2 separate regions of the Homo sapiens genome follow, and region 1 is linked to region 2. Evidence: fine-mapped expression QTL. A gene starts in region 2. The other region holds a variant in brackets. All regions are shown on one strand. Distances are from middle to middle. Region 1 has its middle 67 kb from the start of MARCHF8. Region 2 holds the start of MARCHF8 (membrane associated ring-CH-type finger 8).

Region 1 (5,382 bases), 67 kb before region 2:
AAACAATTTGAGCAACAAAATACAGTAGTATTGGCTTATAACTCAGTATAAAATAAATATCCATGATTCTACACTGATATAAATAAATAGATTAATAAATAAGGGAGAAGGGCCGTATTCTCCACACAAAAGAATTCTGTAGATACTCCACTCCCAAGGAGGAGGAGGAGCAAACGCCTCAAGTCTTAGGTGTGGGCTATGCATAATGACTTTCTTCCAAGTAGTACAGTCTGGAAATGGAGAAAAGAGTAACTTTATAGTGGAGAGACCTGACAAACTCCTCAGCCAAGTAGTGAAGGTCAACATCAGCAGGCATAAATCATGTTGCTAGTGTGTTCACTTGATACCATGTGGTGAGAATGACACTTTAGTAGTCTTCCTCTCAAAACCCACAACCCCAGTGTAACCATGAGGAAAACATTAGACACTGTCCATTGAGGCTCATTCTACACAATACCTGACCAGTACTTCTCAACACTGTCAAGGTTATTGAAAAGAGGAAAGTATGAGAAACTGTCACAACCAAGAGTACGGGGACATACTGACAAATGTCATGTCGTACCCTGGATGGGGTCCTGAAACAGAAAAGGGAAGGCTGAGGGAATCTGAAGAAAGCATGGACTTTAAATAATGTCTCATTATTGGCTCATTAATTGTAACAAATATACCATAGTAACGTAAGATGTTCATAGGGGAGAGTGGGTGTGAGATGTATGGGAACTACCTTTGCAAATTTTCAGTAAATCTAAACTTGTTCTAAGAATAGTTTATTAAAAAAAACTTTTAAGAAAAGATACCTGCAGAAAGAAGTGGAATAGACTAGGTACCAAGTGCCTTGATACCCATTGTAGATAGAGTGAGTCTGCAGAGAAAAACAAGGTGGCTTTTAGATTTTTGTAGAGAATGGGACAAACAGTAGGGGTTTCATTTTCTCATTTATATAATTGCTTTATAAAAAGTTCACTTTGGAGGCAGGAAAATTCATATAAAATATAAAAGTCAGCATTGCCTTCTTAGAAATACTGTGTTGCAAAATACTGTCATTAAAATCTATAGCAATAATGGCTAAAAAAATCTTCACATGTAGATCAAAGAATTCTAGAATCAATTATACTACATTTTAAAGTAGTACCTATTAAGTTTTTGAGAGCACCATCAAAGCTGTCATTACCAGAAAATTTATAGTGCTATATTCTTTATTCCAGAAAGGATTGAATATAGAAATGTCCATGTTACCAAGAAAGAAAAACTATAATCTAAAACTTGAGAAAAGATGTCAGAAAACCAAAATAGAGGAGGAAATGGAAATTAGGAAAAAAGTGAATACTGGGAATTGTATAAAATTGCAGTTGTCCTGAAATATTTCAACCAAATTCACATCAACCTTACCTTAAGAAAGAAAAGCAAACTAGCAAAATTAGAAATGAAAATAAAGTTCAATGCAGAGGAGTCTAAAAATTTATTAGAGAAAGTTAGCAAAATGAGTAGAGCCACAGAAAGATTTTCTTTGAACTTTTTCATTAAAATGCAGTATTCAGTAATTTAATAGATATTAATTGAGCCTTTGGTAGGTGTCAGGCTCAATTAAGTACTGTGGATACAGTGTTGAACTAAACATCCTTGCTTTCATCACACATTTATATTCTAGAGGAAATAAAACAAATATGCCAGATGGTGTTAGGATTCTGCATTCATTTGTAGGGCTGCCATAACAAAGTATCACAGACTGAGCGGCTTCAGGGACAAATTAATTTTCTCACATTTTTGGTCAGAAACCAGCTCTTCTGACACCTCCTTGCCTTGCAGATGGCCATCTTCTCCTTGTGTGCTCTCACGGTCTTTCCTCTGTGTGTGTCTGTGTCCTAATCGCCTGTTCTTTTTTTTTTTTTTGAGATGGAGCCTCGCTCTGTCACCCAGACTGGAGTGCAGTGGTGCTATCTTGGCTCACTGCAACCTCCACCTCCCAGGTTCAAGCGATTCTCCTGCCTCAGCCTCCTGAGTAGCTGGGATTACAGGTGTGCACCACCACTCCTGGCTAATTTTTGTATTTTTGATAGAGATGGGGTTTCACCACATTGGTTAGGCTAGTCTCGAACTCCTGACCTCATCTGCCCACCTTGGCCTCTCAAAGTGCTGGAATTACAGGTGTAAGCCACCGCACCCGACCTAATCACCTCTTCTTATGAGGACATCTGTCATATTGGATTAGGGCCCACTCTAATCTCCTTTTTTAACCTCCTCTTTAAGGACCCTATCTCAAAATGCAGTCACATTCTGAGATCTGGGAGTTAGGACTTCAACATATGAATTTTGGGGGTGGAGGGACACAATTTAGACCATATCAGATAATACATTATGCTGTGGTAACAAATCAATCCCAAAAGCTCAGTGATTTAACACAACAAAGTTTATTTTTCCACCATGGAAAACTCACTGAGCCAGGCAACTTCCCAGAACAGCTGACCCAGGCAGTGACTCAGTGATTTAGGCTGTGTCCACTCTGTGGCTTCACCACTGCAACATGTGGTCTAGATCACTGCAGCAGGGGAAGACAGAGCTGGAGGGTTGCATTTGGTGCTTTTGCCTAGATGTGTATATGCCCCTTTTTGCTCACAGCCCATTGTTTATAGGGCCTGACCTAATTGCAAGGGTTATATGAAAGGAGCTGGTAGCAAATGGATATTTAATGTGCTATAAATCTCTGCCAGAGATGGCAATAAGTGCTAATAACAAAAACCAAGCAGGGGAAGGTGACATTGATAGGAGTGCTGTTTCACAAAGGATGGTCAAAGACAACCTCGAGAAAGTCACATTTAAATAAGCTATAAAGGAAGTGAGGAAACATGTCCGGAATTGGTGGGTTCTTGGTCTCACTGACTTCAGGAATGAAGCCGCGGACCCTCACGGTGAGTGTCACAGTTCTCAAAGGC[A/G]GCGTGTCCGGAGTTTGTTCCTTCTGATGTTCAGATGTGTTCGGAGTTTTTTCCTTCTGGTGGGGTTCCTGGTCTCGCTGGCTTAGGAGTGAAGCTGCGGACCTTCCTGGTGAGTGTTACAGCTCTTAAGGCCGCGCGTCTGCAGCTGTTCATTCCTCCCGGTGGGTTTGTGGTCTCGCTGGCTTCAGGAGTGAAGCTGCAGACCTTCATGGTGAGTGTTACAGCTCATAAAGGCAGTGTGGACCCAAAGAGTGAACAGCAGCAAGATTTACTGCAAAGAGCGAAATAACAAAGTTTCCACAGTGTGGAAGGTAACCCAAGGGGGTTGCCACTGCTGGCTCAGGCAACCTGCTTTTACTCTCTTATCTGGCCCCACCCACATCCTGCTGATTGGTAGAGCCAAGTGGTCTGTTTTGACAGGGCACTGATTGTTGCGTTTACAATCCCTGAGCTAGACACAAAAGTTCTCCACCTCCCCACCAGATTAGCTAGATACAGAGTGTCCATTGGTGCATTCACAAACCCTGAGCTAGACACAGGGTGCTGATTGGTGTGTTTACAAACCTTGAGCTAGATACAGAGTGCCGATTGGTGTATTTACAATCCCTGAGCTAGACATAAAGGTTCTCCACGTCCCCACCAGACTCAGAAGCCCAGCTGGCATCACCCAGTGGATCCCACACCAGGGCTGCAGGTGGAGCTGCCTGCCAGTCCCGCGCCGTGCGCCCGCACTGCTCAGCCCTTGGGTGGTCGATGGGACTGGGTGCCCTGGAGCAGGGGGCGGCGCTGGTCGGAGAGGCTCTGGCCGCACAGGAGCCCACGGAGGAGGGGGAGGCTCAGGCATGGCTGGCTGCAGGTCCAGAGCCCTGCCCTGCAGGGAGGCAGCTAAGGCCCGGCGAGAAATGGAGTGCAGCGCCGGTGGGCCGGCACTGCTGGGGGACCCAGCACACCCTCCGCAGCCGCTGGCCTGGGTGCTAAGCCCCTCATTGCCCGGGGCGGCAGGGCCGGCAGGCCGCTCCCAGTGCCGGTCCGCCAAGCCCACTCCCACCGGGAACTCCAGCTGGCCCGCAAGCGCCGCGCGCAGCCCCGGTTCCTGCTCACGCCTCCTCCACACCTCCCTGCAAGCTGAAGGTGCCGGCTCCGGCCTTGGCCAGCCCAGAAAGGGGGTCCCACAGTGCAGTGGTGGGCTGAAGGGCTCCTCAAGCGCCGCCAGAGTGGGCGCCAAGGTCGAGGAGGCGCCGAGAGCGAGCGAGGGCGCACGCTGTCACCTCTCAGAAATGGAAGGAAATGTTCTACTCTTGAGGAGACTAAGGAACAGCAAGGAAGTCAGGTGGCTAGAGCAAAGCAAGTGAGAGGACGATGGGAAATAGGGGCTAGATCATGCAGGACTTAGAGCCAAACACTTCTGGATTTTATTCTGAATTGGGAAAATACTGGGGTTGACATGGTTTTGAAAAGTCACTTTGGCGATTGTGTAGGAAAAAAAAGACTGTAAGGAGGCAAGGATGGAAGTTGAGAGAAATATACAGCAGTCATCCACGTGGGAGATCCTAGGGCTGGGCTGGGCTGTAGCAGCTCCTGGATGATAGTCACATGCTCTCCTTTCTCAAACCACCAGCACCTCTCTCCCTCTTGTCATGCTCAGCTTTTATTTTATTAAACTATCAACAATCGAAGAGAAATTCCACATGATACAGAAACATCGGGGATTCTGTCTAAGTCTTGGTGCTCACTGCTGAGGAAGAAGACTTTAATCAGGTGTTGCAGCCAAGGAGATGGGAGGTCAGTCTCAAATCCATCTCCCTGACTAAAATTTGGGGTTTATATAGCGGGGAAGAAGTGTAACAGTGTGTTAGAAAACACGAACTAGGGAGCGGTAAGGAAACAAAAGGAAGGGTCTGGCATCTCATTGTCTGAATGTGGTAATCTGGTAAGTTTCAATTATTTGATACTTTTTCAGAGGCCAGGGGTCCTTCCCGAGAAAGGAACTCAGATAAAACAAATGTAAGTTTCGAGCTTTAAGAAAAGAAGGGTCACTTTCTATGTTTGGCCAAAAGAACTGTCTATGGGACTATTGGGTCAGTTTCATGTTCAACAACGAATCTACCAAGCTATCTGTATCTGTGGCCTGCTATTCCCCTTCTCTTGTTTTTTCCTTATCTAAGGATGACTCCTCCAATCTACTCAAGATTTTCCTTCTTACAGTTGTCACTTTCTTGTACATCCAGTTATTACAGCATTTGTATTAGCATATAAATATTTAAACAGAAAACCTCAATCCTGCATCTCTTACCTACTATGATCCTATTTCCCTGCTCTCCTTTACAGCAAGAAAGCAATGATTGTATTTACTTGTCGTCACCATCTGTTATCTCAAGAATCAGGCTTTTAATCCTACCACTTTATCTTAATTGCTCTGTTCCCAAGGTCTCAGTGATCTCTACACTGACAG
Region 2 (5,382 bases):
TTAGTCTGATGGGCTTCCCTTTGTGGGTAACCCAACCTTTGTACTCTTTCTATCGCCTTCTTAAAACTGGAAGGGTGAGTGAGATAGGGCAACAGTAGCCATCTCCATGTCATCTAGATTAGTTAGATTAGGGATAACACAAAGGAAAAATTAAAATTTTCTCTATCTATCTTAGTCCTTTTACTATTTCTATGGCTTTAATATACTCGAAAGTTCTGCAACCAGCACCATAGTCAATTTTAGAATATTTTCATTATCCTAAAAATAAATCATTGAATCCACTGCTTCCTCCCGTTTACCCATTCCTACCCCAGCTCTTGGCATGCACTGCTCTACTTTCTGTCTCTATAGATTTATCTCCTCTGGGCATTCCATACAACTGTCATCATGTAATATATGGTTCTTTGTGACTGGCTTCTTAGTATAATTTTTTTCTTTTCTTTTTTTTTTTTTTTGAGACAAGGTCTCACTGTATCACCTAGGCTGGAGTGCAGTGGCGCCATACCGGCTCACTGTAGCCTCAACCTTCTGGGCTCAAGCGATCCTCCCAACTCAGCCTCCTGAGTAGCTGGGACCACAGGCATGAGCCACCACACCCGGCTAAGTTTTGAGTTTTTTGTAGGGATGTGGTTTTGCCATGTTGCCCAGGCTGGTCTGGAACTCCTGGGCTCAAGCGATTCACCCACCTTGGCCCCCCAAAGTGCTGGTGTTATAGGCGCGAACCACCACACCTGGCCTACTTAGCATAACTTTTTAAAGGTTCGTCCATATTGTGGCATGTGTCAGTACTTTATTTCTTTTTATTGCTGAATATGATTCCGTTGAATGGATATAGCTTATTTGATTTATCCGTTTATCATTTGATGGACGTTTAGGTTATTTCCACCTTTTGGCTATCATGAGTAATGTGATAGAAACATTCATGGACAAGTTTTCATATGAGGAGATGTTTGCATTTCTCTTTGGTGTATATACCCTAGGATTGAAGTTGTTGGGTCATATGATAACATGTTTAACCTTTTGAGAAAGAGCCAGACTATTTTTCAAAACGACTGCATAGATCCTCACTAGCAGTATATGAGGGTTTCAGTGTCACAACATCCTTGCTAACACTTGTTTGTCTTTTATTATGAACATAATTAAAGTAATATCTAATAGTTTTGATTTGTATTTCCATGATGGCTAATGATGTTGATTAACCCATTTTTCATTGGGTTATTTGTCTTTATTATTATTATTATTATTATTATTATTATTATTATTATTATTATTTTGGTAGAGATGGGGCCTCGCTATGTTTCACACACTGGTTTTGAACTCCTGGCCTGAAGCAGTCCTCCCACCTCAGCCTCCGAAAATGCTGAGATGATAGGCGTGAGCTACTTGCACCTGGCCTTGCCCTTATGTTACTGAGTTGTAAGAGAGTTGTTTATATATTCTAGATACAAGTCCCTTATTACATATATGATTTGCAAACTTTTTCTTCTGTCAGTTGTCTTTAGACTTTTTTTTTTTTAACATTTATAAATAGAGGTAGAGTATTGCTATATTGCCCAGGCCTTTCTTGAGTTCTGGCCTCAAGAGATTCTCTTGCCTTGGCCTCCCAAAGTTCTGGGATTATAGGTGTGAACCATTATGACTGGCTGTGTTTTCCCTTTCTCAGTGGTGTCTTTTGAAGCACAAAAGTTTTTATTCTGATGATGTGTAGTTTGTCTGTTTTTCCTTTTGTGTGAGGAAGAGATCCAAATTTCTTTTGCATGTGGCTATCTAGTTGTCCCAGCACCATTTGTTGAAAACAGTACTCTTTCCCCAAGAAGTGATCTTGGCACCCTTCTTGAAAATCAGCTGACTATAGATACGTGGGTTTATTTCTGGGCCCTAAATTCTATTCCATTGATATATCTATTCATATTCCAGTATGACACAGTCTTGATTACTGTTCCTTTGTTGTAAGTTTTGCAATCTGGAAATGTGAGCTCTCCAACTTTGTTCTTTTTCAAGGTTGTTTTGGCAGATCTGAGTCCCTTGAATTTTATATAAATTTTCAGATCAGCTTGTCAAATTTCTGTAAAGAAGTCAGCTCAGTTTTTGATAGAGATTGCTTTGACTCTCTATGTCAACTTGGGAAGAATTGCCATTTTAACAATATTAAATCTTCTGATCCATGAACATGGACATCCATTTCCAATTTCTTCAACAACCAGCTTTGGCAGTATCTCTTCTAGATGTGAATGTTCATGTTAGGTGGGCTGTATTTTGCAAGTTAGCATTAGTCAAATTGAAGCCCTCATGCCTGGATTGTGAGGCATAGTGCTGAGGTTTAACTGTTATTCTGTGTAAAGATTAATTTAGTTGATATAAAAGATGTTTGGAAATTATGCAAAGAAAATAATGTAATATATGATTTGTATTTTTCATGTAAATCTTCACATAAAAAATGGCATGGCCTGTTTTATCGTTTGTTTGTAAACTCATTTTTATCCTAAATATGTGTGGCATAGGAGGGAGATTGTTTCAGGCAAACTTATAGGTCTGTTGCTTTGTTGTGGTGGTACATATCAAAAGACTAACTTCAATGACAGTGAGGAGGGATGTCCTTCAAAACTGTAAAAAATTTGAGACCCTCTTGCATCTGTGTTTCTGTGCCATAAATAGCCCTTCTCAGGCTTGTCATGGGCATGTACCAATGATGTAATAATGATGATTATATCAGAAGCACCACAGGTAGCTTTTGGCATGGTAGGTATAGGGCTGTGGATATCGTCAGTTTGACCAAGTATTCCAAGAGGCCCCATGGAGTTTGTCATCTGTAATAGAGGACGTTAGTGCATTAGTGATGAAAAAACTGCTTACCACTGACTATTGTGATCTCCCAGGGAGTATAAGGCAGCTCCGCAGTAAGTGCCTCTTGTTTTGTGTGACGTGCTTGAATACAAACATTCAGACTGTTTCTTGGGCACAGTAGTGCTCCATCTTATGCCAGCCTCATCAAAGGCTTGAAATAGAGTAGGTGGTGTGTGATACCTAGACACTAACATCCCCTATTCTATTTTCCTTTTTTTGTTGTTATTATCAATGGTCACTCACTTACTGTAAAACTAGACTTTATAAACAGATTATTATTTTAGCTAATTTTCTTCTATGTGTTGATCCCTCCCAGTTTTTGTTCCTTTTTGTTGTTCATTGATTCTAGAGTTGTGTGAAGGAAGCCATTTCGTGATTCCTGGTGCTCCTCTGCTTGCTTAGTGACACTACTAAGAATTGGCACCAGCCTTACAAACACCTGCCTTTGATCCAGAGTAGAGTTTGGGGAGAGGTAGAGTAAGTGACTGCTTATCAAATGTGACCTTGGGGTTGTCAGGCCCTGTTGTTTACCCTACCTTTTCCTACTGCCTCACCTGTCCCCACCCCCTACCCCAGCACATGGTTAATAAATGAAAATCTCCAAATTCGAGATTCATTCTTTTGGTTGAAGGCTTCCATTTTCTGTTAAAATTTGAACAACATGAAACATTTTACTACATTAAACCTTCTGGATAATTTACGTTTAATTGGTTTTGTATACAGAGTGGGATAGATCTCAGTGGGTAAGTGGGGAGAAAGAACAACACACAATTCAATTATTAGACATTTTGGGGGATGCGTAAGAGAAAACCAGAAACAGGGCAGGAGTACCTGGAATCACTGAAGACAGTTTATGCATACACTGTTATTTTACCTAAAGGCAGCCTTTCTCATGGTTCTTAGGCATGTCATGGTGACCCTTCATATTCCCTAGGAAACCCTTTACGGCAGTGTTTGGCAAACTATAGTCTGGTGGGCCAAATCTAGCCTGCTGCCTATTTTTGTAAATAAAGTTTTATTGGAACATAACTATGCTCATTCATGTACATACTCTTTTTTTTTTGGTGGGGGGGAGGTTGGGGGGTTGGAGTCTCGCTGTGTTACCCAGGCTGGAGTGCAGTGGTGCGATCTTGGCTCACTGCGAGCTCCGCCTCCTGGGTTTGTGCCATTCTCCTGCCTCAGCCTCCTGAGTAGCTGCGACTACAGGCGCCCGCCACCATGCCTGGCTAATTTTTTGTATTTTTAGTAGAGACAGGGTTTCACCGTGTTAGCCAGGGTGGTCTCGATCTCCTGACCTCGTGATTTGCCCGCCTTGGCCTCCCAAAGTGCTGGGATTACAGGCATGAGCCACCGCACCCGGCCCATTTACATGCTCTCTATGGGTGCTTTCATGCTACAGTGGCAGAGTTAATTAGCTGGAACACACTTGGACCACAGTGCCTAAAATATGTATCTTGCCCTTTATAGGAATAGTTTGCCAACAGCTCGTGTAGAGTCTCTACTTTTGGAAGGTTAAGTATGGATCATAGATACCTTGAGTTTAATTTGGACTTCCTAACCTCTGATCTCACCATTATGTGGACTCACAGACAGTGGTTTTAAGGAAAGATCACTGCTTATTTCAGGACAAATGCTTGGTCATGATAAAAAAAAAAGTTTAACTTCAAAAATATTCTTAAAATAAATGGTGGCACTGCTTTGTTTTAATCCTAAGTAGCCAATGGAAGATTATATCTCTGATTATACATGTACGTGATCCACCTGCCTCTTTCAGGTGCTCCCATCTTATTATGAGAAATGTTAGAATTTTCCCCTTAGACATTCATCTTCTATTGTTTTTGAAGACCAAACATTTATGTTGCCGTAACTTATTTAAATATACATATGAATATAAGTATAAAATGTTAAGCTCACTCTTGGAAATTTAAAGTGTTTTAGCTGAGTTATGTTTATTCTCTCTTCATTTTCTCTCAGCTTGAAATCCATGGCCCAAAATGACTCTACCAGTGGAGACTCTCTTCTGTGAAGAAGACGACCAGATAAGAGGTTGGGATGAGCATGCCACTGCATCAGATCTCTGCCATTCCATCCCAGGATGCCATCTCTGCTAGAGTCTACAGAAGTAAGACCAAAGAAAAGGAGAGGGAAGAACAGGTACTGGGAGAGTATCTTTTTTAGTTTCATTATTTTTATTAAATTTTTATTAAAGATGACCTAGAACAGTGCTTAAACTCTAAAGGTCAGGTTTTCTCTGATAATATACTGACAAGCACACAAATAGTTGTACTCAGAAGGAATTGTCTTTTTGTAGATTTCTAGGTTTTCAGATTTTGGTGTAAACTACTGTTTATAAATGGTTATAAATGACTTATCTTCATTGGTTAAATCTACCTGATTATTTTTGGTTAATCACTGTGACTAAGTTCTTTGGATTCTCAGAACATGATGCTGCTAGTTTCCTATTCATCGTAGTGTGAAATTTGGACACCAGATGGCTGGAATTTCTTAATATGTGTCTTAGTCTGCCCTAGCTGCTGT

What was found. PIP is the estimated chance that this variant, and not a neighbour inherited with it, causes the effect.
Region 1: its variant is the best candidate, but not a certain one, in a credible set for the expression of MARCHF8 in whole blood (INTERVAL, PIP 0.69).

The regions. Positions count from the first base shown.
Region 1 is chr10:45,599,400-45,604,781 of GRCh38, reverse strand. No RefSeq gene overlaps it. Among named protein-coding and RNA genes, the nearest start is that of MARCHF8, 67 kb to the right of the region's middle. The variant A/G (reference allele first, on the strand shown) is at 2,931.
Region 2 is chr10:45,532,726-45,538,107 of GRCh38, reverse strand. It overlaps MARCHF8 (membrane associated ring-CH-type finger 8), which reads left to right and starts at 2,737. Exons shown (of 8, transcript NM_001282866.2): 1 at 2,737-2,897; 2 at 4,819-4,998. The coding sequence starts at 4,897.